Regions from separate parts of the Homo sapiens genome. Here all the other regions are linked to region 1. Evidence: fine-mapped expression QTL. A gene starts in region 1. Each other region holds a variant in brackets. All regions are shown on one strand. Distances are from middle to middle.

Region 1 (5,105 bases):
CATTCATTCCTGCTTTGGCAACAGAACTTCTGTGAGGGTGACTCAAATGTTATAAATGAAAAAGACTTGTCTAGCAAGGGAATACGGGGCAGCTTCGATCCTGTTCCCTCCCTGCTCCCAAGCCTGCCTCCCTGGGAGGTCACTTGGGGTGTCTCTGGTCCAAGCCAGCAGTCATTTTAGCAGGTGAGTCCAGCATCTCCAGAAGGGCTGGCCACATGAGCCCTGGATGGACCATGCCCATCCACATCGGCAAAAATGTGTGGCTGCCTATCAACCATACAACATCCACGCAACAGACACACACTTGCTCCATCAGCACATGCGCTTCGGGAAGGTCTCACTTCCAAGTTGTTTATCCATGGACAGTAGTCCTCAAGGCTCCACTGGTAGGCACATGGCTGGGCACTGGAGATACAGTATTGCCCTCTCTTCACAGAAACTATAGTCTGGCATACATTTCAGAAGCAACATGGAGGCTGGTGGAATTGGATGGATAAAGACAACACTGGGAAAGTACTGGAAGGGGAGGGGAGATCACAAGTTTGATTTTGACGCATTGAGTCAAGGGGCATTTGATATCCCAGGGAGAAATGTCAAGTGGGCAGCTGCGGAGGAGAACTACAGAGGAGTGGCCGGGCCTAGAAACACACCTCTGGCCTTCAGGGAGGGAATATTGATCAGCGGTGCACCTTAGACTAGGCTAATGGTGGTGCAGATGGAGCACAGTGGACCCACTGAGGCACAGCTGGGAGAAGCATACTTTCACCAGTTGAAACTGATGCATCTACCATCACCCCCACTGTGAATGCATCTTCTCTTGGGGTTTGGGGGCAAGATTTGCACACACAGCCACCTCTCTTCTCAGGGGCAAGGATGTACACACACAGCCGCATCTACTCTCAGGGGCAATGGTTTGCACACACGCATCCCTGGAGAAGAGGGGGCTCCCATCAGGGCACAGTGCTTCAGGACCTCCTCCAGGCTTCCGTGGAGGTGGCGGTGCTGACACAGGGAGCGCATCTCTCTCTGCCAGCTGTCCCCCACAGAAATGAGAGGTGGCCTCTGTGTGACTTTCCGCATTGTCCTCACTTTGTGTCCACACAGGGCCTCCAAGAAGCATCACACGTAAAGACAATAACACCCTCATCGACTTCCCTCAACTGGTTTGACTGGAACTGATGAGGGAGTGTGTGACTAAGTCCCAAGCCATCTGGACACATCCAGTGACCTGACCTTTTACAGAGACAAATCTAGCTCCTAGCTCTTGTCCACATGGGAACGGTCTGTTGGGGCAGGGAGGGGGCGGTGGTGACTCACAGGCATCACCAACATCAATGAACAAAAATCTTGGCCCCCAAGGTCAGATTCAGGGGCAGAGCCTTGTCTGGGAAGGGCTGGGTGGTACGTCAGGCCTCTCTCACTGACAGCGCAGCCCCCACCTCTTGGGCCTGCTCCACCTCGCCTCTGACCTTTTGCTCCCCAAATGCCAAGAGCCTGTGCTTGGAAAGTACAGACCCTAACCCTGTTCACACCACAGAGCTCTGCCCATACCATGCTGGCTGAGTGACCGTGGTGGTCAGACGCTTGCCCCAGCCACTGGCCCCCACCATTTCATGCCCTCCTCTGGCCATTATCCCAGTTTTGGAAACGACCCTCCACACCCCCCCTCCCCACCCACATACACACAGTTTAAATGGACAAGAGTCGTTAGTGTGCAGAGGCAGAACTTCATCCATCTTTGGGACACAAAGACCTCCAGACGCCCTGGGTCAAGGGGTACCTGGGGCCAAATGCAGAGCTGACTGGACATGGACACAGTAATTTCTGTATCACGTGATCACTCTTTGCTGGTGTTCATTCAACTCACCTATACGCTCATTCACTCTAAAATACAAGCAGAGAGCTGTATTCTTTCTTTGAGTTTCCTGGATTGAAACTCTGATGGAATGGTCACGACTCAAGACAAACCAATATCATAATTCTGCAAGTATAATTGCCTAATCTTTCTGGAAAGGTTTGCATGCCTGGAAGGAATTTAGGTCAGGTCCAGCGCGGTCTCCATCCGGCTTGGCTCTGCCTCCCCATCCTGTGGGTTGCCCGGCCTTCCCCAGATGGTCCCGGGAGCTCTCAGAATTGGCACCGCGCTCGCATCTGTGCTCAGGAGCCCTGTGAGGTCGTCGACCCTGCAAATCGCGGCAGTCCAGCCTGGACCACCTGCCAGGGTCTCCCTGCCGCATCTCCGACCCCCGGCGGCTGCTGCATCCCGCTCCACCTGCCTCCCTGGGAAGGCGCGGGCGCCCGCCCGGCTGCGGGGCAGCATCCTGGCAGAGCGCCGGCCCCTCCCAGAGTTGGCACAACTCGAGCCACTTTCTTCAAAGGCTCCAGCCTCCAGCCTCGAGTGGGCGCAGCCCCCCACGCGCGGCCTGCACCCCCTCTCTGTGTCGCCCGCTTTCACGTACGCCGCCCTGCCGCCGGCCCCCGCGCACTGTAGCCACCCGCAGACACGCGCGCCCTCCTCCTGTTTACCGAGAGGGAGCGTGAGCACTGCCACTGTGGTCGCCAAGTTGGGCTGGGGACTCCGGGTGAGGGGACGCGCCACAGGCCGGGGTCGGGGGTCGTACGGGCCCCAGCCGCTGGTACTGGGCGCGCCGCGGGGGCGGCGGGGCCGGGGTCCGGACTCTGAGCCCCGGAGCGGCCCCTCCCTCCCGCGGCAGCGGCCGAGGCAGCGCCCCGGCCTGCTTGGGCCTCCCGGGGTGCACAGTTCCCCACAGGGGCGCAGGGTCCCTGTCCGCACGCGCGCTCACCTCGGGGGGGCCGGTCTGGTCGCGCAGATCGCGCTGCAGCGGAGGCTCCGCATCTCCCGGGCGCCTGCCCGCCGCCCTCCGGGGCGCCCGGCTGTCTTCGCCGGGCGCGAAGAAGGGTCGCGGGGACGCGCAGAGGCCGTGGGTTCCTGAAGCCGCTCGCGCCGGCTCCTGCCGCCCGCTGTCCGCAGCCTAGCAGGAAATTTGTCCGGCCGGCCGCGTCCCGCCGCCGCCTCGGCTCCAGCTCCGGCTGTGGCTCCGCGGCGGGGGCGGGGGCCTGGGCGCTGCGAGGAGCGGGGGCGACGCCTGGTGCCCGGCGCGGGGAGCGCATCCAGGGCGCCCGCCCCACCTGCGAGGCGGGTATGGCCCTGAGGCCCTGCGGCCCTGCCCTGGGAGCACCCAGACACTGTGGGCATCCGTTTACTCAAGGCTGGTGCCCCTTCCGGGGAGGCCTGGTCCAGCCACTCCGCCGGGACCCAGGTGCGTAGACAGAGGGTCAGGGTATGGCAGGCACTCACACCTGGTGGAGAGCAAAGGCAAGGCCCTGCCTCTCCCTGCCCTATCCCTGTGCACCAGGAAGTGGCCTGACTAGGGACTCGCCCTGGTCTTGCAGCAGGTGTGGGACACGCAGGGCACCCCGTGCGCTTCTGGTGCGAGGAAGCTGGGAGAGCTGTGAGGTCGCTGGGCCTGGTGGCCTCCTCTGGAAAGAGGAGGGGATAAGGCGCCTGTCTGGGGGATGTAGAAGAGGGCTCGCTTGTCCCGAAGGCAGTATCTGTCAAAGTTAAAAACGCACAAAGAGAAAGAAGAGCGACAGAGCCAGGCACTGGGCCTGCTGTCTAGCCGACTTCTTCCAGGGAATTTCACTCAAGCTATTTAGGGAGCTTTCAGAGAAAAGGCAGTTCCCTGGAAGGAGCAGAAAAGACACTGGTGGCATGTTGGTTCTGAACCTTTGTGCCGTGCCCTCTGGATGGGGCCACGGCCCAGCCCTCATGAGGGAAGCTGCATTCTGTGGTAGGGACCCAGCTCATTAGGCTTATGAATGAATGAATGGATGGGGAGAAAGTGGCACTTACGGTGTGTTACCCCACGTTGCACCGATTGCCAGCCGACGACTCTTAGCATACTTAAGGCCTGTTTAGACAGAGCTACGGACCCCAAAGGCTGCAGAGCAATGGGTGCCTCCTGGCAGAGGCCACCCCCACGTGATTTGCCCAGAGTGGGACTTCCCCTCCACAGGGGCCGGAGAGCTGCGAAACCAGTGGAGAACTTGAGCTCCACCTCCCTGCCCTGCCCTGCCCATTTCTGTCCCTGGGGGCCTTGTCTAGCCCCAAAGCTTTAAACACCATCCGTATGGGAATGACTCTAAGCAGCACCACTCTGGGGCCCTCTCCTCCAAGCTCAGCTCCTCCTGGCTGTCTCCTGCTGTCTCAGACCTGCCTCTTGCTCTTACTTAGTTTCTCTGCAGTCGTCCCTGTCCCTGCCTCCGTGTCCCACCTCAAGTCCACCTCCCAGAGGGCCCAAGTCCACTTCCCACTGGCTTCTCCATGCATCTTGCCCTTTCATCTCACTGCCTGCGCCCCTCCAAAACCTGCAGTGGCTCCCCAGCTTCTGACCCACTCTCCCAGATGATCCATTCTTCACACTTGGTCCCAGGCACCTCACAAAGTGTAAACCGGGTCCTGCTAGCCCCCTGCTTAAAAGCCTCCAGGAATATTAAAACCCAAACTCCCACGAGGCTCTGCCTGACTTCCCTGGCTGCTCTGAGCCTCTCACCCCTGCCCGCTGGGCTCCAATCACGGCTCCTTTCTCTCAGTGCCAGAGCCAAGCTCCTTCCTGCCTGGGACTCCTCCAACCAGTGCACCTGGTTCCTTCTTACTGGTGGCTTCTGGAAGATCGCCCTGCATCCATCTCTTCTGCCACTCTCTTCCACATCCTCCATCACAGTTTGGAATTATTTGTGGGTTTATTGGCTCCTTTTGTGTCTGTCGTGCCCTCTTCCCCTACCCCCAGGGCTGTAAGCTCCAGCAGCCTAGGCTCTGTTGATCTCCATGGCTTCTCAGACTCAAGCTCCTAAAGCAACGTCAGTAGCCAGGAGGTGCTCAGTGAAGGCGTCTGGGCTGTCAGAGCAGAGGAGGATGGGCCCCAGCCAGCAGCAGCAGACAGCCTGGTCACCTCGGAGCCCAGCAGGGCGGGTGGCTCCCTCCTGAGTGCACCTCCAAGGAACAGCCCAGGTTGAGGTGGGGCCAGGTAGCACATGACGTCACCAGGCTTTGGATTTTTCTGCTGTTGTGGTCTACAGAGTCA
Region 2 (5,105 bases), 210 kb before region 1:
GACTGATTTGTGCTCTCCCGAAATTCATATTTTGAATTCCTAACCCCTCGTACCTTAGGATGTAACTGTATTTGGAAAGAGGGCATTTAAAAAGGCAATGAAGGCTTTTTGAGCTATTAGTATGGGCCCTAATCTGATGATTGGTGTCATTATAAGTGGAGATTAGGGAACACGTGCACAGAGGAAAGCCCATGAGAAGAGGCAGCAAGAAGGCAGCCATCTTCAAGTCAAGGAGAGAGGCACAGAGAAATCCAATCCAGCTGACACCTTGCTCTTGGACTTCCAGCCTCCAGCACTGAGAAGGGCATGTCTGTTTTTCAAGGCATTCAGTCTGTGGGACTTTATTATGGTGGCCCTAGCAGACTAATACATCCTCAGCTCATATAGAACATTTCCAGAAGCTTTTTAAAAATGCTGTTGTCTAATCACTACTTCATTCCCTCAGCAAGTAAACCACCGTTTTGGCTTTTAGGATATCATAAACGTCTCGAGTTTCACTACCTAAGCATGGATCTCTGAACACGATAGTTTTGTCTGTTCTTATAAAAGTCCTTAACAGTGATACAAGAATGTATACATTTGTGCCTGGCTTGTGCTTTTCTGTGTGTGAGATTCATAGCATGTTGGACATCTCTGTAGTTTGTTCCTTCTCATGGCATAAGTATTTCACTGAAAAAAAAATGTTTAATATATACAATAATATACATAACTATACAGAATTCATTCATTCTTGATGGACATTTGACTAATGTCTAGTCTTTGAAATGTGTCAAGGTTTGCTTTATGAGCAGATATGGCTAATTATCTTACTAATCTGCCTTGTGTAATTGAAAACTGTATTCTACAGTGTCTCATATATATGTAATATATAATTATTATATATATCACTTATATAATATATAATTATAATATATTATATATAATCATATATAATTATAATATAATATATAATATTATATAGTATATACTATATGTTATATAGTAATATATAATATAATAATATATATTATATATACCATATAGTATATACTGTATACAGTATATACTATATGGTATATATAATACATATACAATATATATACAATATATTTATATTATATAATATATAATATATACATATATAATATGTAATATATATACACATATACAGATACACACACTCCCGTTAGATTCAAATCTATAATCTTAGTAAATTTTCCCCTACTATTATTCTAAGAGATATGTTCAAATCACCTACTGAGGATTGATTGATTGATTTGTTTTTATCTCTATCAGTTTTTGCTTTGTATATTTTGAGGCTGTACTATGGTGTACAAACTTAGAATGATGTCTTGGTGCATGGAACTCTGTCATTTAGAGATGTCCTCTGTTTTTAGTAGTGCTTTCTTTTCTGCTTAATGTTTCCTTTGGATGATGAGTATGGTTAAACTAATTTCCTTTTGATGAGTGCTTGTGTAGTATAACTTTTCCACCCCCTTAATTTTAACTTTTCATAATTGTTATGGTTTAAGTTGTCTCTTGGAACCTGTTGTCAGGTGACCTCTTGTGTTTAACTGGAATATCTTCTTGCTGGATTGATCCTTATATAAAATGTCCTTTTTCTCTATGAATAACTTTTGTCTGAGATGATTTTGTCTCATGTTAGTACAGTACTCCAGTTCCCCTCTGCTTGCTGTTTGCATGGTATATCTTTTCCCATGCTTTTATTTTAAAAGATTGTGTCTTTGAATCAAAATTGCGTCTCTTGTAGACAACGTATTAGTTGGGTCATTTAAAAATCCATTCTGCTAAATGAATCTCTGTTATTGTCTTCATTTGTATTAGCTGTTTTTTAATGCACCACTTAAATTCCCTAGTCATTTCTTTTACTGTGCTTCTGGGAAGTTTGCCTTCATTTTTAAAGAGTATTTTTATTGAATACAGACTTCTATGTAGGAAGTTTTTCTTTTTTTCTTTTTCTTTTTGTTTGTTTGTTTGTTTGTTTTTGAGACAGAGTCTTGCTCTGTCACCCAGGCTGGAGTGCAGTGGTGTGATCTTGGCTCACTGCAACCTCCGCCTCCCGGGTTCAAGTGATTCTCATGCCTCAGCCTACCAAGTAGCTGGGATTACAGGCACGCGCCACAACACCCGGCTAATTTTTGCAATTTTTAGTAGAGACGGCGTTTCACCATGATGGCCAGGCTGGTCTTGAACTCTTGGTCTCAAGTGATCCACCTGCTTCAGCCTCCCAAAATGCTGAGATTACAGGCATGAGCCACTGCGCCCGGCCTATAGGTAGGAAGCTTTTGATGTTTATTGGAGGGCTGAACTATTTTTCAAAACAAGATATTATCCAAATTGAGATAAATTCAGATGATTAAAGACATCCAACAAAGATTTGAAAGTGAATCTTAGAAAGAGAGACTTGATTCCAAACTCTCTACCATGAGAAATAATATCAGATGTGTGACTGCTTCAGATCTTACTTAGGTTGCCTATAAATTCAAATCAGGTCATTTCACTGAGGCCAAAAGTTTTCATTATGCAAAATAAAGGATTGCTTCTATGACTTGATCACTGAGGTTTGCCAGGACAATTATGTATCTTGCTAAAGGTGATCTTCTTAAGATGTACCTGTCTTGTTCAGATACAGACTGAATGTGTGGGAAACTGAAGTGATCATAGTGTTCTAAAATATAGGTTTGTAGTTACCCTGTAGTGTAAGTGTAGCTTTTTATTTACCCTGAAGTATGTAACTTCACAACGTGAGAAAGATTCAGTTACCTACAGGCTTCCTGGCTGGCCTTCCAAGCCATCCGATGATTTCCATGGACTTAAACTAGAAGAAACTTGACTTTGCTCTCATGTGCATTAGCTTATGTCATAGAAGGTGCTTGGTAATATTGTCAAATCATACCTGGGCTGTTCGTCAGTGATCAGAAGTTAATCTGGGTCCCCAGCCTCTGACAGTGGTATTTCAAAACAAACTCGATGCAACTAATCCTAGTTTTTAGTGTAAAAGCACTTTTCTAACTCTAAATTTATTTCTTTGTATAAGGTGATGTCTTGAACTAAACCCAAAGTTTGTTCGTTGATCCTTGGACATTAAGTGGATATGGAGACTTCCGCCCCAGGGTATAAATTTTTAATCAGGATCTTTGTCGTTCTATAAACTGCAGGTATGAAAATGAAAGTCTTCAGA[A/G]TGGAAGGAAGTCAACTGAATTTCCAAGAAAAATACGTGAACAGGTGATAGAAAATATCCAAGTTTGGGCTGATTCGTTTCGATGATATGAAATCATTTATGTATGCTTTAATGATTTCTTACTTGAAATCAGTTACAAAGAGGGTGGTTACTGTTATAGTAGGAAAATGTAACTAAAGTATAAAAACGAGTTGAACTTAGACGTATTAAAATAATCTAAAATGATATTTCCTCTTTATTGTTCAAAATCAGAGCACTAAGTTGGTCTTACACTTTTAGCCAAAAAGTCTATTAGAGCATGTTGCGAGCTTTTTGCAAACCCATGATTAGGATAACCCCAACACGTAGAGCTAACATTTGGGAATTGCATTATCTGGTGGCTCATTTTGTCGCCCAGTCATTGTACTCATCCGTCTTTATGTGTCTGAAATAATCACATTATGAAAATCATGAGTGCCAAAGATGCTTCTCTATTTTGATAGATAGACGACCCATGAAACAGGAAAAGGGATCCTGTGCTTTGTCTTGTGAGAGAATCCTATAGTTTGAGTGTATCAGTGTGGAACAGGTATTCCAATTGTACAGCTTATGAAAACATAATTGTCGACACGTGCTTCGCAATTTAGATAGTTTGAGTATATCAGTGTGGAAGAGGTATTTTAGTTGTACAGCTTATTAAAACACAGTTGTCGGCATGTGCTTGGAAATTTAGTGGGATTTAGGCTTAGGATGAGCCCTGAGAATTCATATTTTTCCTACATTTTAGAGTGCTCCTAAAGCTAGTTTCAGATGAGCTCCTTGGAATATCTTGGCTTAGGAGAGTTATCTTAGGTGCACCTGAAATTAGCAGTAGGTACTCTTGAATTTCAACATTTCTGCCTTTTTTTTTTTTTTTTTTTCTGAGACGGAGTCTCACTCCGTCACCCAGGCTGGAGTGCAGTGGTGCGATCTTGGCTCACTGCAACCTCCGCCTCCTGGGTTCAAGCAATTCTCCTGCCTCAGCCTCCCGAGTAGCTGGGACTACAGGTGCACACCACCATGCCTGGCTAATTTTTGTATTTTTAGTAGAGACAGGGTTTCACCATATTGACCAGGCTGGTCTTGAACTCCTAACCTCGTGATCCACCCACCTGGGCCTCCCAAAGTGCTGGGATTACAGGCTTGAGCCACCATGCCCAGTCCATTTCTGCCATTTAAGTACTGCCTTCTTCCCTAGAGGAGCAGCCTTAATGTTGAATCTGATGGTCATCAGTTCCCGTGCTGGAAGCCAGTTTCTGAGGCATCCCACACTGTAGCCACCAGGCAACTTGCTAGTCTATGGGAGTAAATAAACCAAAAAGCCAGTTGAACTGTGGGTTAGATATGTGCCACTCAGCAGTCTAGGAACTGTTTGTTCTGTTACTGGTCTGTGATATAGTGAGTACTGAAATGGAGTATGTAGTAAATATGACAGCAATTCGACAGCAATTTTGTGGCTATTGAATGTAATCGTACAACAAAAGTGAGATTATATACTTTACATATTCATAATTTTATTAGTGGTTCATTTATATTGTTTAGTCATAAGATTCTTGTTCCACTTCAGATTGGAAATAAAAAACCATCCCTCACATAGATAGTTTTAGAAGCAAGGTGTTACGTATCAAGAAACCTAAAATTGATTAAGGAAGTTAGATTCTTTGCCTTTGTTAATATTTTTTAGATATTTTCTTAATAATCCAGATGATAAGCTTTTCTTCCTTTGGGGCATCAGACTTTTATAAAAGTTATATATATATGTTATTCTTTAGTTCTTCCACCCTTCCGGAAATAATTCCATATGAAGGAAAGTTAGGGCGCTGTCTCTGGGGAGCCAGGTGGGGGCGCTGCGCCTGCTCCCAGGCTGTGAGGTTGCAGAATCTGTGAATATACCATGTGTGCCTGT
Region 3 (5,105 bases), 190 kb before region 1:
ACTACCTGCAACCGCAGCTGTGCCTGCTTTGTTGCAACAGAGGTGCTGAGTTGAGGGATGGGGATTTGACCCAGGGCTGCCCCAAGTCAGCAGATGAAAATACATGCCCTGACTTTCCTCTGGCAACCCTGATTTGACATGGATCCCGGGAGTGAATTTGCTGGCAAGTTCCAGGGGCAGTAGCCTGCGGTAGGTCAGTTAGTCCTGAAGAAGAGGCCTTTCTGTCGGAGAGAAAAGTTTGCAGGTGGGTGCATCTACCATCTTGAGAGGCTGAGGAGGGAGGGAGAGCCGTGCTCGGTGGTCAGTCTGGTGAAGGAAGTGGGTTCAGTCTGCAGCCCACATCCTGGGCTGTCATCAAGAATTAACATGGCAAACGGCGACTCCATAAAGTAAACTGTAGCTACTTAACTAAATGATTTCGTGTGGCTGAGATCCTACTGTTTGCTGGGTTTCCTGGAAAAGTCCTCTAGATGAACTGCAGGAATCTCCTGGCACTCTGGTTACAGCTGGAGAAACTGATTTCTGTGCTGTCCAGGTGCTCCCAGACCCCCAAGGCATCTCCAGGACACAGTCACCAAACCCCCATCCTGGTATTACTGGCATTGAGTGCCACGTAGGCACACAGCACTCCATAATTTGGAAATGTGGATTTCATTGCTATTGCTCTTCATGAGGGAACAAATAATACCCATGATGTATTGGCAGGAAGCCACGCCCCCCCTCCCCCGCTGCCACCCCCACAGCGCGCACAGTGATTTCAGGAAGGAGGTTTGATTGGTTTGTTGTGTGTTGCCCTGCAAGGGCCCCAATCAGCTTCCTGCTCATCAGCCCCATCTCAGGCAAGTCCCACATCTGTGATGTCAAGCCCTGAGCCGGGTAATTGGACTTGGATACCTGCTTGACTCATCTTTCCAGTGAGGTTCCTAAGGAGCATCCCCAACCCCACCTCCCAGGGGGAGCTCTCGATGTCACCTGAAGAACAAACAAACAAAAACTGTGTTGATGGTACAGTCCCAGGGCTCCGTGACTGGACAGGCTCCCTGCGTGATACACCTGTGTATGTCACTACAGAAATACAGCTGGTGCAGGCCTGTCCGCCTCTCTCACAGGTCAGAGTGTTCTAAAATCCATCCTGGCCCTTGTTGTCTGTCTGCTTGGGGTTAGGGCAGGTGCTCCTTTATCATTTGTAAAGTTTATGTGATGTCTGGTATGTGTTCCACACCCTTGCAGAGTGTAAATTCCTAGAGAGAGTTCAGACTTCGGAGTCAAATGCACAGGTGCAAATTCCAGCTTGTCTAATTTGCTGCTGTGTGAACGTGGACAGTCTTTCAACTTTGCTAGTTTCCCATCTGTAAAATGAGGCTGTTCAGTACCTGAGCACATAGCATTGTTGAGAAGATTAAATGAGACAATATGTGTAAAACACTTAGCATTTTACCCAGAGCTTGGTAAGCATCAATACATGCTAATTATCATCATCATCAGAAGATGAATATATTTATTAGATGCCTAAAACTCCAAGATATTTCCCTTGGCTCATAAATTCTTTATCACTAGGGATTTCTCTATGGAAGTGAAGGAAGAATCTGGAACGTAACAGGCCTGAATAACCAGGGGCAGTGGCTCACACCTGTAATCCCAGCACATTGGGAGGCCAAGGCTGGAGGATCGCTTGAGGCCAGGAGTTCAAGATCAGCCTGGGCAACATAGCGAGACCCCATCTCTACAAAAAAAAAAAAAAAAGAAAAAAGAAAAGAAAAAATTAGCGGGCATTGTGGCACATACCTGTAGTCCCAGCTACTTGGGAGGCTGATGTGGGAGGACTGCTTGAGCTCAGGAGTTCAAGGCTGCAGTGAGCTATGATTGTATCACTGCACTCCAGCTTGGTCAACAGAGCAAGACCCTGTCTCAAAAAAGAAAAATAAAAATCCTGAATAATATGTCTATGTCTTCATCGAGCCCACGTATTGAAAACTACCCAAACCACCAACAATGCAAAGAAACATTATTTAACTAAGAGTCGAGTAACCAAATTTCAGGGTTATCCAAACTGAATATGGCCTCTGCAGGAGAAAAGAATATGTGTGATGTGGCAGCCACAATCTGATACCATATTAACACTGTCTTTTATTTTTTTTTTTTTGAGACGGTCTCACTCTGTTGCACAGGTTGGAGTGTAGTGGCACAATCTTGGCTCACTGCAACCTCTGCCTTCAAGGTTCAAGAGATTCTCCTGCCTCAGCCTCTGAGGAGCTGGGATTACAGGCATGCACCACACATACCTGGCTAATATTTGTAATTTTTTTTTTAGGAGAGACAGGGTTTCACCATGTTGGCCAGGCTGGTCTCAAACTCCAGACCTCAGGTGATCCAGCCACCTTGGCCTCCCAAAGTGTTGAGATTACAGGCGTGAGCCACCATGCCCAGTCAACAGTGTCTTTAAATGACATCAGATCGCAGAACTTTGCTGAGCTTGGCCCAGACACAGGTCTGGCTAAAACAGGTGGTGCTGGGACCAGGCATGGCCAGGACATAGGGAAGCACATCCCTGCATAGAAAAG[G/A]TTCTGTGGATTTTAATCCAGGTCAGCAATTAGCAAACTTTTTCTGTCAAGGACCAGGCAGTAAATATGGCGGCTTCGTGGGCCATACTGTCTGTTATGCTGACTCACCTCTGCTGTTAAAGAACAGAAGCGGCTGTAGGCAACACGCAAGCAAACAGGCATGTCCAAAAAATGGCTAATAAAAACAGGCTGTGGGGCTGGGCACGGTGGCTCACGCCTGTAATCCCAGCACTTTGGGAGGCTGAGGCGGGTGGATCACTTGAGGCCAGGAGTTCGAGACCAGCCTGGTCAACATGGCGAAACCCAGTTTCTACTAAAAATACAAAAATTAGCCAGGTGTGGTGGTGGGCCCCTGAAATCCCAGCTACTCAGAAGACTGAGGCAGGAGAATTGCTTGAACCAGGGAGGCGGAGGGTGCAGTCAGCTGAGATCCAGCCCACTGTACTCCAGCCTGGGTGACAGAGTGAGATTCCATCTTAAGCAAAACAAAACAAAACAAAACAAGCAAGAAAACAACAACAACAACAAAAACCAGGCTGTGGGCCCATTTTGACTGAGGACCTTGGTTTGCATATCCCTGATCTAGAGAAATGAGTGATTTAACATATATGCCTCCTAGGACATATCACATTGAAATTAGCAGCCCTTGCAATATAACGGGTCATGAGCAGAGGGTGCATTTCACTTTGGGCTTTGGGGTCTTCCCGGGCCCTGGAACCCCCACCGGCTCCCAGCCCCAGGACGTTGGAAGCTGAGAGGCCTGGCTTCCAATCCCAGCCCTGTCCCTTGCTCGCTGCATGACTTGGGCCCATTGCTTGGCCTTTCTGAGCCTCAGTTTCCCTAGCTGGGAGAGTGAAGATGGCAATTTCTTGCCTCGTAGGGTTGTGAGGACAAAAGAAGAAAACTCGGGTGGATTGTGTAGCCTGGCCCCCATTCTCAGAAGGTCTCCAAGCGGTGCCGTCTTCCTCTTATCCCAGCGTGGCCTCAGCCTTCGAGAGGCCTAGAACTCTGGGAAAGGAGCAGTCAGGACTGGACACGACTCCAGGCTTTTCTTATTTCTTGTGTGGGGTCTGGAAAAGGAGAAGTGCAATTATATCCAAGGCCCCTCTTGGGCAGGGGTCTCAGATCCAGGCCAGGCTGATATGAGCAAGGGGAGGCGGGTCAGGCCAGGCAGCACTGTCAATTTTGATGTTGGGAGGGAGGAGGGGCATGACTGTGTATCAGCAAATTCCTAAATTTCCACCCTGGCTCGGGAGATGCAGCTTGTGCTGAAGTGAGTCACTTATTCCTGGGCCCCTCATCTGCCTGCTTGCTTCCATGTCCCCTAGAGCCAAAAACAACTATAGGAGCAACTTAGGGGAAAAGTTACCTATATTTATATATAAGCGTATGTATTTATATATAAATATGATAACTATAGATATAATCTAATATATTGTGTATAATATAAATTAAATATATTTAATGTAATGTATATAACTTAAGTATATTATATATTCATAACTATATAAAATATATAAATATACTAAATATTATTCACTAGGTTTTCATCATTGGCAACCTAAGTTCTATATAAATATATAAATATTATCTATGAAAATTTATACACAAATATGTATATAAAATGTTATAAATATATACATACATATTTAAGTAAAAATAATATATACATAAAATATATTATATGTTTATATAGATTTAGGTTGGCAATGATAAAAACTTAATGAAGAATTTTTAGTGTAATAAAAACTAGTCTCGTGGTAGCTCTTTGTGTTTCAGAATCCAGCTATTTGGCTCTGGGCCCGCCCTCTGTTACTCCGAGAAAGCACTGCTTTGGAGGTAACACAACGCTAGGTGGCCCCTGAGGCTCCCTGAGCACCGTCCGATACCCCTCTCAGAAGCACCTCTGCCCCCTCCTCTGTACAGCCCGCTTTGCTCGCCTGCCTCTTCCTTTGGATTCCAGGTTGGTCGGGGAAGCAATGGGCCATGTGTGTGCACCGTCTGTGCCTGCCTTCACCCACACGAGCCTGTTGGAAGACGACAGCCATATGGAAGACCGCTGAGCTACCCCGGCCCCCCAGCCCAGGCTAGTTGGGGTTACCCAACTACCAGCCAATCCCCAGACGTGAATGTGAATAAGCCCAGCCAGCATCACAGAGCTGCCTCGTCAATGTCTAGCTGACCCCAGATGCCACCTAAACAATTTGGGTTTCTCACGGCAGTTCTCTTCCCAACCTCTGTTCCCCTGGGTTCCTAAGAACTAAGGGTTGTGCCCACCAATCAAAGCAAGAGGGAAACGGGCCTTGGATTTTAAGGCGTTGCACTGCTGTGACTTGAAAAGGGATATGGTTTAAAATCATTCATTTAGGCCGGGCATGGTGGCTCACGCCTGTAATCCCAGCACTTTGGGAGGCCGAGGCAGGTGGATCATGAGGTCAAGAGATCGAGACCATCCTGGCCAACATGGTGAAACCCTGTCTCTACTAAAAATACGAAAATTAGCTGGGTGTGGTGGCTGGTGCCTGTAGTCCCGGCTACTCAGGA
Region 4 (5,105 bases), 170 kb before region 1:
CATGTATGTACTTAAGTGAAGTCGTGTGTGCATGTGTGTAAGGAGAGGTAGAGAGGAGACTCTAGGGAATACCATGGCCAGGGGCAGCGACCAGGCTCTGCTGCCCACAGCTGCGGGTACTGGGGGGGTGCAGCCTGTGTCCACCCCACCTGGAGGGCTTCGGGCTGGGGGCTCACCTGCAGTGCACGGTGATGGGGTGGTTGCCTGTCTGCTGCTGCTGCTTCTGCACGGCTGCGATGAGGTCAATCATGCCTTTGCCCTCGGCGGGAATCCCGATCTCAGGCCAGCCGTGGAAGTGAAACTGGCGCACTACTCGGACCTGCTCCTCCTGGCGGGCCTGGGGCTGCAGGGAGGAGAGGGGGTCTCAGCGTCGCCTGCCTGCCGGGGAACAGGCCCCAGCCCCATCTGCCCTCTCAGGGATTGGCCAAGGCTGGGAGCCCTCCCTGAGCCTTCTGTGCTGCCAACATCCCCACCGAGGCAGCCTGAAGGAGAAGGCTGAAACCTGCTTGTCCTAAAGAAGAAGGCAGGTGGCTGGCTGTGCTTCCTTCTGCAAGGGGGAGCGAGCCGTCCAGAGGACATCCCCTGGATCCCTGTGAGGACTGCCCAACCCCTACGGGATCCTTGGCAGCTCTGCTGGAGAGAAGGGAATCACTTTCTCAAGAAACCAGGGCCCTGCATTTCCCTTCAGAGCTCAAATGAGCAGCATCTGAGTCTGGTGGCCAGGGTGGCTCTGTGGCTGGCATGGAGGAGACAGTGGCAGGTGCATTACGTGATACTGACTGTTTGGAGCTCAGCATCAAGACCTGTGTACAAGTGAGTCATCCTACCTACAGCTGACCCCGAGTTCTCATTCTTTGCCAAGGAGAGAGGATGAGCAGAACCAAGGACCCAGTGGAAATGGGGACAGTTGGGGGGCTCTGAGAAGGCACCTGGAGGAGGGCCCCAGAGAGGCCCCTGTGGCTTCATTAGTCCCCTTTGTTCTTCCTCTTACAGCTAATGGCTAATGTAATTCTCCTGAGAGATAAATGGGAGGTAGGCAGCTAGGGAGATGGGAATTGTACAGGAGGCCTGCCACTGTCTCTGAAACCCATTGGCCATTCATAGCCAATGGGACTAGGTGAAGGAGCAGGACAGGTGCAGGGCCACATTCTGGTTCAATGACAAGCAGAACCCAGAGGGAGGGCGTGGTTCACTAAATTCACAAGCGTTTAAAGAGCTACTTCAACAATACCTGATTGAGAGTGACCAGAAAGTCTCGTATACTGATGGCTTCTGAAAGGGTATCATTCTTTATCTCAATCGTTATTTCTCCATGAGTAACTGAGCCCTCGGTTGGCCAATACTGGTAGCATTTATCCTTAGGGGATAAAATAAAAATTTAAGTCTTGTAATAAATAATTTGCTGCTGGCGATTTTGAGTTTATAACACAGAATTGTTCTCAAACCAGTTAATGTATTTCATCTGACCAAAAAAAAAAACATATGAATATGAATATAAATGCCTGTTAATGCTTGTTGACCCAGGGAACAGAACAGAGTCTAGAAACAGACACATATATATATGAAACCTTAACATATGGCAGAAAGGAGAGATTCTTCAATATGTGGGGCTGGAAAAATTGGTTTTCTACCTGGGGAAAATGAAATTGGATCCCTGACTCATTCCCTACCAGGGTTGATGTGAGTGCCCCCAGCTCTTCCTAGAACTGGGCAGTGTACACCCTGCACTTCCACGTGTCATGGCCTTGAACCTTAATAAAAATACACCCAGATGGAGTAAGGTTTAAGGTAAAAAACAAAACTGTGAAACTCTTGGAAGAAGAAATATCTTTTCACTTTGAGGTACACAAGGATTACTAGACAAGAGCCCAAACAGCTAACCAATCACGATGCAACAATTTGAAACATTGGATTACAGTAACATTCACTTCTCTTCATCAACAAACATCATTAACAGAGTGAAAAGACACGCCACAGATTGCAATAAGATGTTTGCAATACATAAAACCAATAAAGAATTAGTATCAAGATTACGTAAAGAGCTCCTATAAATCAATAAGAAAGGACAAACAATAGAAAAATCAGTGAAAGGCAGGAACAGGCATTTGACACAAGAGGAAATATGTCATCCACAAATATATGAAGTGATGGGGTTGACCTTGGAATCAGAATGATGCAAATCAGAGCCACAAAAAGATAGTATTTATACAATAATTATACAATGAACAATATTTTGTTAATTTTCAATTAACAATAATTAGGACACCTTGAGAATACCATACTAGGTATGTAGATGAATGATATCTCTTATACATTGTTGATGTCCACTTTGGAAAGCAATTAGGAATTATCTTGCAAATTCAAACTTTCACATACTCTTCAATGAAGCATTTTGGCTCTTTGATACATCTTAGTCCTAGTGCAGCATAAGACATGTACAAGAATATACAGGTAGGGAGAACACAAGGACACAGGGAGGGGAACAACACACACTGGGGCCAGTTGGGGGGTGGAGGGTGAGGGGAGGGAGAGCATTAGGACAAATAGCTAATGCATACAGGGCTTAAAACCTAGATGATGGGTTGACAGGTGCAGCAAACTACCATGCACATGTATACCTATGTAACAAAACTATACATTCTGCACTTGTCTCCAGAACTTAAAGTTTTAAAAAAAGAATGTACAGGTAGCACTGTTTGTAAAACAACGAAATGAAACCAACTCAAGTGCCCATGACAGGAGAAGGAATACCTGAGCTAATGCAGGATATAGTTTGTGCAGTGGAATATAATGAAATAATGATGACGAATGAACCACAGCATAAGCATCAACATAGAATATCAAAAGCACAATTTTGAGTGGAAGAAGCAAGTCTCAGAAGACAACATGCTGTAATGATGCTCTTTCTATAAAGTTCAAACACAAGTAAAACTAAACAACAGTCTACGTAGGCATAAACAGATGTGATTTTAAAAGA[T/C]GTTTTAAAAAAGCAAAGAACATATCCACTAGGATGGCTTTAATCAAAAAGACAATGACAATGTTGGTGAGGATGTGGAGAAATTAGAACCTTATATATTGCTGGTAGGAATGTAAAATGGGGCAGCTACTGAGGAAAACAGTCTGGCAGGTCCTCAAAAATGTTAAACAGTAAGTTTATGACATAGAGTTATGACGTGACCTAGCAATTCCGCTCCTAGTATATACACTCCTAGGCGTATACCCAAGGGAAGTGAAAAAGCATGTCCATACAAAAACTACTACCTGAATGTTCAAGAAACTTTTTTTTTTTTTTTGAGACAGAGTCTTGTTCTGTCCCCCAGGCTGGAGTGCAATGGCGCGATCTCAGCTCAATGCAACCTCTGCCTCCCAGGTTCAAGCGATTCTCCCTGCCTCAGCCTCCCAAGTAGCTGGGATTGCAGGTTCCCGCCACCATGCCCAGCTAATTTTTGTATTTTTAGTAGAAGCGGGGTTTTGCCATGTTGGCCAGGCTGGCCGCGAACTCCTGACCTCAGGTGATCTGCCCGCCTTGGACTCCCAAAGGGCTGGGATTACAGGTGTGAGCAACCGCACCAAGCAAAGCAGCACTATTTATAATAGCTCCAAAGTGGAAACAACCTAAATGTCCATCAACTGATGAATGGATATGCAGAGTGTAGTATATCCACACAAGCAAATACTATTTGCCAGTAAAAAAGAATGATTTACTGATTCATGCTACAACATAGATGAACCTTGAAAGCATGATGCTAAGTGAAAGAACCCAATCACGGAAGACCACATACTGTATGATTCCATTTATAATAATGTCCAGAATAGACAAACCCATAGTCAGGAAGCAGATTAGTGGTTGCCAGGGGTTAGGGGAAGGAAGGAATGGGGAGTGACTGTTAATGGTACGAGGTTTCCTTTTGGGTTGATGAAAATGATCACAGATTAGATAGTGGTGGTGGTTGCACAACTCTGTGAATATACTCCAATTCACTGAATTGTACCCTTTAAAAAGATGAATTGCATGAATTATAGGTGAATTATATCACAATAAAGCTGTTCCTTTTTAGAGCAAAGAAATAAAAACACAAATACACAGCAGTAGTTATGTCTTGGGGGAGAACCCAGATAGATGTACATTGTTGGTAAACCTTGGGTTTACTGTTGTCTTCATGTCTTGAAAAAAGTCAATAAATGTCTTTTTCTTCAACAGGTTATGATCTTGGCCAATACCAAATGGCAGAATTTCAGGGCAGGTTAAATAACATGTAGGCTAAGGATAAAGGGCAGCGGGTAGCTATGGTTAAACCTCACTCCCAAAAAGGGAAAGGGTGAAATGAAACCTTTTTCATTTCCAATCTCTCTCCTTCCCTAGTGGTCCTGGCTTGGTCTCACCCATGTGTTTGCAGTGATGGCAGGTGGGACATTTGTAATGAACGGGGACAGTGCCTCAGGTGCACAGGCTGCCCTGGAGGGACCGGGCTGGGCGGCACTCCTCACCTGCTCTCTCTCCTGCACCTCCGTCAGCATCACGATAGTGTGGGATTTCCATTCCCAGATCATCCTCCAGAAGTCCTCAACCGTGTGTGCCAGTGGCCCCTGGGTGGCGATGAAATAGTCCTTCTGTCGGTAGCCCTTCAAATGGAGGCGCAGAGGTTAGAGTCTGACTTCCTTCCATCCTGGCTCCATTACCTGCTCCCTAAGTTTAGGACAGCCTAAGGCCTAATGAGGAAAACTCTCTCATCCTCCATGGTCTGCACCAGACCCCAGTTGGCACGAGCACTCAGGCACACACCTGACAAGCAGGTCAAGAAGCTCGCTTATCTGAAACCATAACGGCCACCGTCAGCCCCTGAGGTCATCAACAAATGGGTATTATGAACTGGTAGTTGCCTGTGGCCACCTGAACAGCACCTGGTGGCTTAGATTCTAACATGTTTCTGTGTGTTTCAGCTAGATCAGCATGGAGCCCACCGGATTCTGGTACAATTTTCTCATCTGCAAATGGCAATATGAACACACACTTGGCTGCCATTCCCCCTTTTGCCCTTCTTCTGCGAACTCCACTGTGCATGAAGACAGCCTCTGTGTGCCCTGAACACATAATTGTATTGTCC
Region 5 (5,105 bases), 140 kb before region 1:
GAAATAATATTCGAATGCAATATTTTTAAAAGTCCAAATCAAGGCACAAAATCTATGATGACCAAAATATGAAACTTTTAACTAATGGCAGGATGAGTAGCTGTGTGGTGACAAGCCGTATGTATCAGGGCCCAGGGCAACAGGGAAAATCAGTCGGCCCAAGCCTGTCTTCCTTTATGGTCGTGTTATTTTCTTCACCAGGGACTGCCTGTATTCATTTTGATATTGTATTTGTTACCTTTCCTGTGGTGCTGATAATTTTGATATTTTAAGTGTTATGTTAAAATATAATTTATCCCACTGCTGAGCTTTTGGTGCTGTCTTAAATTATGTGCCTGGGGTGAGTGTCTCACCTGCCCCACCCTATTCCTGGACTCCCTCCCTGGGAGTGGCCCCCTCTTTTGAGCTGGTTCTGACTCAGACACCCCCATCAGCAAGCCCAGCCCCTGTCACTTGGGGAAACAAAAGTGCAAGGGGAAATGGGATGAGAAGGGTGGGGGAGGGGATCTGCTAGCTGAAAACTTGGATAGTTATTTTGAAAATGAGAATTAAGGTCTGTTGTCAGGCTGAGAGATTGCAACACAATAGTGCTTCAAGCTGTCTTTCAATATGACCTAATTTCTCCAAAAAAGGGGACACATTTGGAAACAATAAAAAGGAAGTAAGATAAAGGCAGAGGAGGCTTGCACCAAAAAACAAGCAATGTACAGTTTACATGGGCCACCACCTTCCCATGCCTTCACACGTTGCTTCTGGGTAAAGTCTCATTTCTGCAGCAGAATTCATGCCATCTTCAGATATAACAACTGCACAACACTGTTGTTTACAAAATCCATTGTCTGAGCCTCCCATTCCAACTTCAAGGTAATTAAGACAGGCCCATCTCCATTGCCCCTTCCTAGGTGGTGGAAGACAGCTTCAAGGAAATTAACTGATGTGCCAGGGCCAGCACGCAACAGGCATAGCCAGGACCAGTTAGCAATCCTGCTGAAAATCTATCCTCTTTAAGATCAACACTTAGCACAGCCACATGCAAGAAGGTGAAGATGCATAAAATTCAAAACACGACCAAGGATAAATACTGAATAGCAAAATCCAAGACAATACTTCCTCATATCTGTTTGTCTACTTCTCTATCTGCCCATCCATCCATCCATCCATCCATCTGCCCTCCCACTCATCCATCCATCATCCATCCACCCATCCATCCATCCATCCATCTGCCCTCCCACTCATCCATCCATATGCCCTCCCACTCCATCCATCCATCCATCCATCCATCCATCCATCCATCCATCCATCCGCCCTCCCACTCATCCATCCATCCATGCATTCATTCATCCATCCATCTGCCCTCCCACTCATCCATCCATCATCCATCCATCCATCCATCCACCCATCCATCCATCCATCCCTCTGCCCTCCCACTTATCCATCCATCCACCCACCCACCCACCCATGTTGATACACAAGCAGATATAGCTAGTGTTCTCTCAAGGCAGCTCACAGCTGCTTCATTAATGCCGAGATGGTGGTTCAGAAGAGGAACATCGCCTACTCTGATTAGGTGCTCCAGCTCTCAGAAGCCATGAAAGGATGGTTTGGGGCTCTGTTACTTTCCCCATGATATTGTCATACCGTGCCGCGCTCAGGTCCTAGCCTTCTGTGTTATCGAGATAACAGTGTTTCTGCCACAGTTGATTTTAGAACTTGACACTCAGAGTGGGGAGGTGTAAGGAGGCTTCACAAACCTCTAACTCAACTGTCTCATCTTATAAATGAGGAAATAAGCATTGGCAAAGGGCACTGCACCACACACCAGGTTTCCTCACACGCCCATTCATGGGACAGTGTCATAACTGATGCAAGGGTTCTGAGTCTTTGGGATAATTCATCCTGAACTCTAACACTGGATTTCACAGGTCTCCACCACAGGGCACCCAGCAGAGAGCCCTCCCCACACTCACGTTGAACTCCTCCCGAAACTGCTTGCAGTCGTCGGCGGATCTGATACGGATCTCCTCCTCCAGGTGCTCCACGGGGATGGGAAAATACTTCTTGGGCCCTGAGGGTGACCTGCTGAGCAGCATCACCCTTTGCTGCTCTGTGGGATCAAAAGAAACATGGGGGCCATTTAGCCACATTCCTGGATAGGCGACTGAGTAACCAAGCTGACCAACGACATTCCTGAAGAAATGACCAGGCTGGAGCTGGAACAGTTCTCTCAAATCGCATAGCTGGGCTAAGCCGGGTCCCGAGCAGCTGTATCCAAACACTCGCCTCCTGTGAGGCATCCACATCATTTACAAGTGACGGGCGTCCCTCTGCCCAGTGTCACCTGCTCTCCCCCATTGGAGACAGCCTGTCCCCCTCCCGAGGCCACTCATCCACCCACCCTCCCACCTCTCCTTCCCTCCAGCCCCTGCTCCTTCCAAAAAGGATTCAAGACGGCCTCACTCTCCAGCTCAGCTTTCCAGGTTTGGAAATAAGAAAGAGTAATTACGGCTTCTGGGAGCAAACTCAGAACGTTCTCTCTCAGCCTTTTCTTCTTCATAACAAATATTCCTGGTTCCTCAAACCCCATAAGCTCCAAGGGAAAACCACCCTTGTCTGGGGAGGGTGACAAGGGGCATTGAGAAGGAGAAGTACGCGTTATAAGGGAGTTCTTGGACACATTCCTTCCCCAAGTTCGGAGTGAGAGGCAAGAACAGTTATGGACATGTCTTTCTCTTCCTGGAGAATGAGCTGATATTG[A/T]CAAGGTCAACATGATAACCCAGCTGTCACACTTGCAAAAGGGCCTGTCCCCACCTGCAGAGCCATTCTGAAGCCCAGCCAAAAACTTCACCCAAGACTCATTCCTCCAAGTGACAGATGGGATCAGAATGAGTGATGCTGAGCTTCCCTGCTACTCACTAGCCGCACCCTCCTCCCTTCCGTTCCTGCTATTGAAACATTCAGGGCAGGGAACCGGGGACTGGAACGAGGGCAGGAAGACAGCACCTGGTGCCACATTATCGTCTAACCAGGTCTCGGGTCCCGCGAGCGCTGGGAGGCTACATTTCAGCTGGGTCCTTGTTGGTGATATTCTTTTAATGATCTAAGGGTCCGTTTTAAGAGTCTATTTTAGTCTGACGGCACGTGTGTTCCCCCAAACCATAGAACTGACTACAGTTAGGTAGGAAGCTGACTCCAGGAAGTTGTAGTCACTGGGGTGTGAAGCAATATTTTTGTGGCCTCTGCCTTACACACGTTTCTCGGTCATCTCATCTCTATGTATGGAGAGAAAAACAATGTTCCTTTGTAAGTAGCGACAACAAGTTCGAAACTGTACTTCGGATGGAAAAGTTGGAAATGCTCCCAGCTGACTCTGATGCTCTGTAAACATGAAGCACTTCAGGAGAGCGAGTCTCTTTTTCCAGCTGGATCCTAAAGCAGTACAAACCCAGCTGAATAGTTTCTGAGCCAGACAGTCTTATCTGAGAATGATTGTAAGGCCTCACTGAAAAGTGTTACATGTCAACACCCTGTGAAAACGACAGGATATGAACAGTCTCTCTAAAAAAAGCCACAAACAAAAATGTCTCAAACGTCCATGTCACACCCGAGAGAAAAATGATCCTTAAAGTTTTGAAATAGTGAAATTCTAAATGACAGCATCATACCAGGTAGAGTGAGATGAAAGTGGCAAGGCACACCTCAAAATTTACTTTGAACGTTAAAGGCAGAAAGCACCTCAGTGTCTGCTAAAAAAGAACACATTTTCCCCCAAGCCCCAGCCAGAGAGCAGCTTCTGTACCTTGCTCCTCCAAGATTCCGTTGGGCATCTTCTTGTCGCTGGTGCTGACCACAGCTTTCCTCTGCTTCCTGAACCTTAGAGACACAGGATGCGTTAGGTTTCCACACTTCTAGGTTCCCCGAGAGCCAACAGCGCTCGGCACAGTGATACCCACCAGGTGAGCCGGGAAAAGCTACTCCTGTTGCTCATGGCTGAGCCGCGCTAAGGCCTGGCCTCTGTGTGTCTCCCAGGCCCAGCCACCCAGCCTCTCAGCTGCCCTCTGCTGCACAGCCCACGCCCACAGCATCAGAAGGCTCATTTCCTCCTCTGAGCTGGTTGGGGCAAGTCAGTGCCCCGGGACACTCCTACCTGAAGAAGTAGGCGGCGAGAAGGAGCACGAGGAGGAGGAGCAGCAGCGGCAGTAGCAGCCAGGCCAGCAGCGGCTGGGAGGCGCCCGGGTCCGGAGGGCCTGCAGGAGAAGCAGAAAGACCCTAACCCCTGACCTCACTTCACAGTTTGCAAAAGAGTCTCCCTCCATAAGCCCTTCTTCCTGGACACCAGAACCCCAAACTATATTTTGTAAAGTGGATCCATCATCCTGAAAAGGCCCCACGAGGTAACAGAGAAGCGACTTTAGTTGTTGCTGTTGACTCAGAGAAAGAATCCGGGACTGAGGAGTGGGTGAGGTGACTTGTCCAAAATCCCTGGGGCAGGCATGACAGGGGTGAGTTCCCCAGACCCCCACACGGCCTGGCTGCCTGGCTCTCCTGCTAAGAAGCTGGAGAAGGGTGAAGGGGCCGGTGTCCACTGCAGGGTCCTAGGACAGCGCGGGAGGCTGACTCGGCGTAGCTCAGCTCTTAGGGCCCCTTGGGCTTGGGCAGGAGCTCAGGCACAGGGAGGCGGCCTGGCCCTGGGGCTGGGCAGAGGCCTGTGGCCCTGGCGCACTGTGACCCCACCTTTCAGAGCCTCCAGGTCCCGATTCCACCTGTCAGAGGCCGAGTGCCCAGCCACCACCGGCCTCTTACTGTGTCCTTTGTACCTGACAGGTTGACCTTCCTCACCCAGAAAGAGACCCACAGCCCCAGGCCCAGCTAAGTGGCTTTGTTGCTGCTCAGGACCCACCCCTGGCTCATCAGCCCAAATTCCAAGGGACACTGGTGGCCTCGCTGCCACCTTTGGACCCCACCCACTCTCCCAACGTCGCACTTTGTTCCTGCTCCTCCCCCGCTGGCCACACAGCCCCCTCATCACCAAAATGTTCCCACTCCTCGAGGACAATCTCAAAGGCCCCCACCTCCAAGAAGCCCACTGGACTCCTCTCTTGTGGACC

Which allele goes with the higher level. Alleles are on the strand shown, and positions count from the first base shown. SD is a standard deviation of normalised expression in the study named. Not every link is listed here.
As copies of G replace A in region 3, the expression in thyroid of the gene that starts at base 3,011 in region 1 goes up (small effect, 0.15 SD a copy in GTEx).

What was found. PIP is the estimated chance that this variant, and not a neighbour inherited with it, causes the effect.
Region 2: its variant is the best candidate, but not a certain one, in a credible set for the expression of PTPRE in whole blood (TOPMed, PIP 0.63).
Region 3: its variant is the best candidate, but not a certain one, in a credible set for the expression of PTPRE in thyroid (GTEx, PIP 0.52).
Region 4: its variant is the best candidate, but not a certain one, in a credible set for the expression of PTPRE in whole blood (TOPMed, PIP 0.51).
Region 5: its variant is the best candidate, but not a certain one, in a credible set for the expression of PTPRE in whole blood (INTERVAL, PIP 0.78).

Annotation. Positions count from the first base shown.
Region 1 is chr10:127,905,009-127,910,113 of GRCh38, reverse strand. It overlaps PTPRE (protein tyrosine phosphatase receptor type E), which reads right to left and starts at 3,011. Exons shown (of 21, transcript NM_006504.6): 1 at 2,805-3,011. RefSeq lists a silencer at 3,048-3,167.
Region 2 is chr10:128,117,373-128,122,477 of GRCh38, reverse strand. MKI67 (marker of proliferation Ki-67) reads left to right here. Exons shown (of 15, transcript NM_002417.5): 5 at 3,159-3,225. Among named protein-coding and RNA genes, the nearest start is that of MKI67, 6.5 kb to the left of the region's middle. The variant A/G (reference allele first, on the strand shown) is at 3,182.
Region 3 is chr10:128,091,353-128,096,457 of GRCh38, reverse strand. No RefSeq gene overlaps it. Among named protein-coding and RNA genes, the nearest start is that of AS-PTPRE, 31 kb to the right of the region's middle. RefSeq lists enhancers at 4,070-4,569, 4,570-5,071. The variant G/A (reference allele first, on the strand shown) is at 2,562.
Region 4 is chr10:128,072,855-128,077,959 of GRCh38, reverse strand. It overlaps PTPRE (protein tyrosine phosphatase receptor type E), which reads right to left. Exons shown (of 21, transcript NM_006504.6): 17 at 4,489-4,623; 18 at 1,232-1,357; 19 at 177-343. Among named protein-coding and RNA genes, the nearest start is that of AS-PTPRE, 13 kb to the right of the region's middle. RefSeq lists an enhancer at 1-67. The variant T/C (reference allele first, on the strand shown) is at 2,978.
Region 5 is chr10:128,046,529-128,051,633 of GRCh38, reverse strand. PTPRE (protein tyrosine phosphatase receptor type E) reads right to left here. Exons shown (of 21, transcript NM_006504.6): 4 at 4,145-4,244; 5 at 3,797-3,870; 6 at 1,968-2,104. Among named protein-coding and RNA genes, the nearest start is that of AS-PTPRE, 13 kb to the left of the region's middle. RefSeq lists enhancers at 3,846-3,895, 4,196-4,265. The variant A/T (reference allele first, on the strand shown) is at 2,755.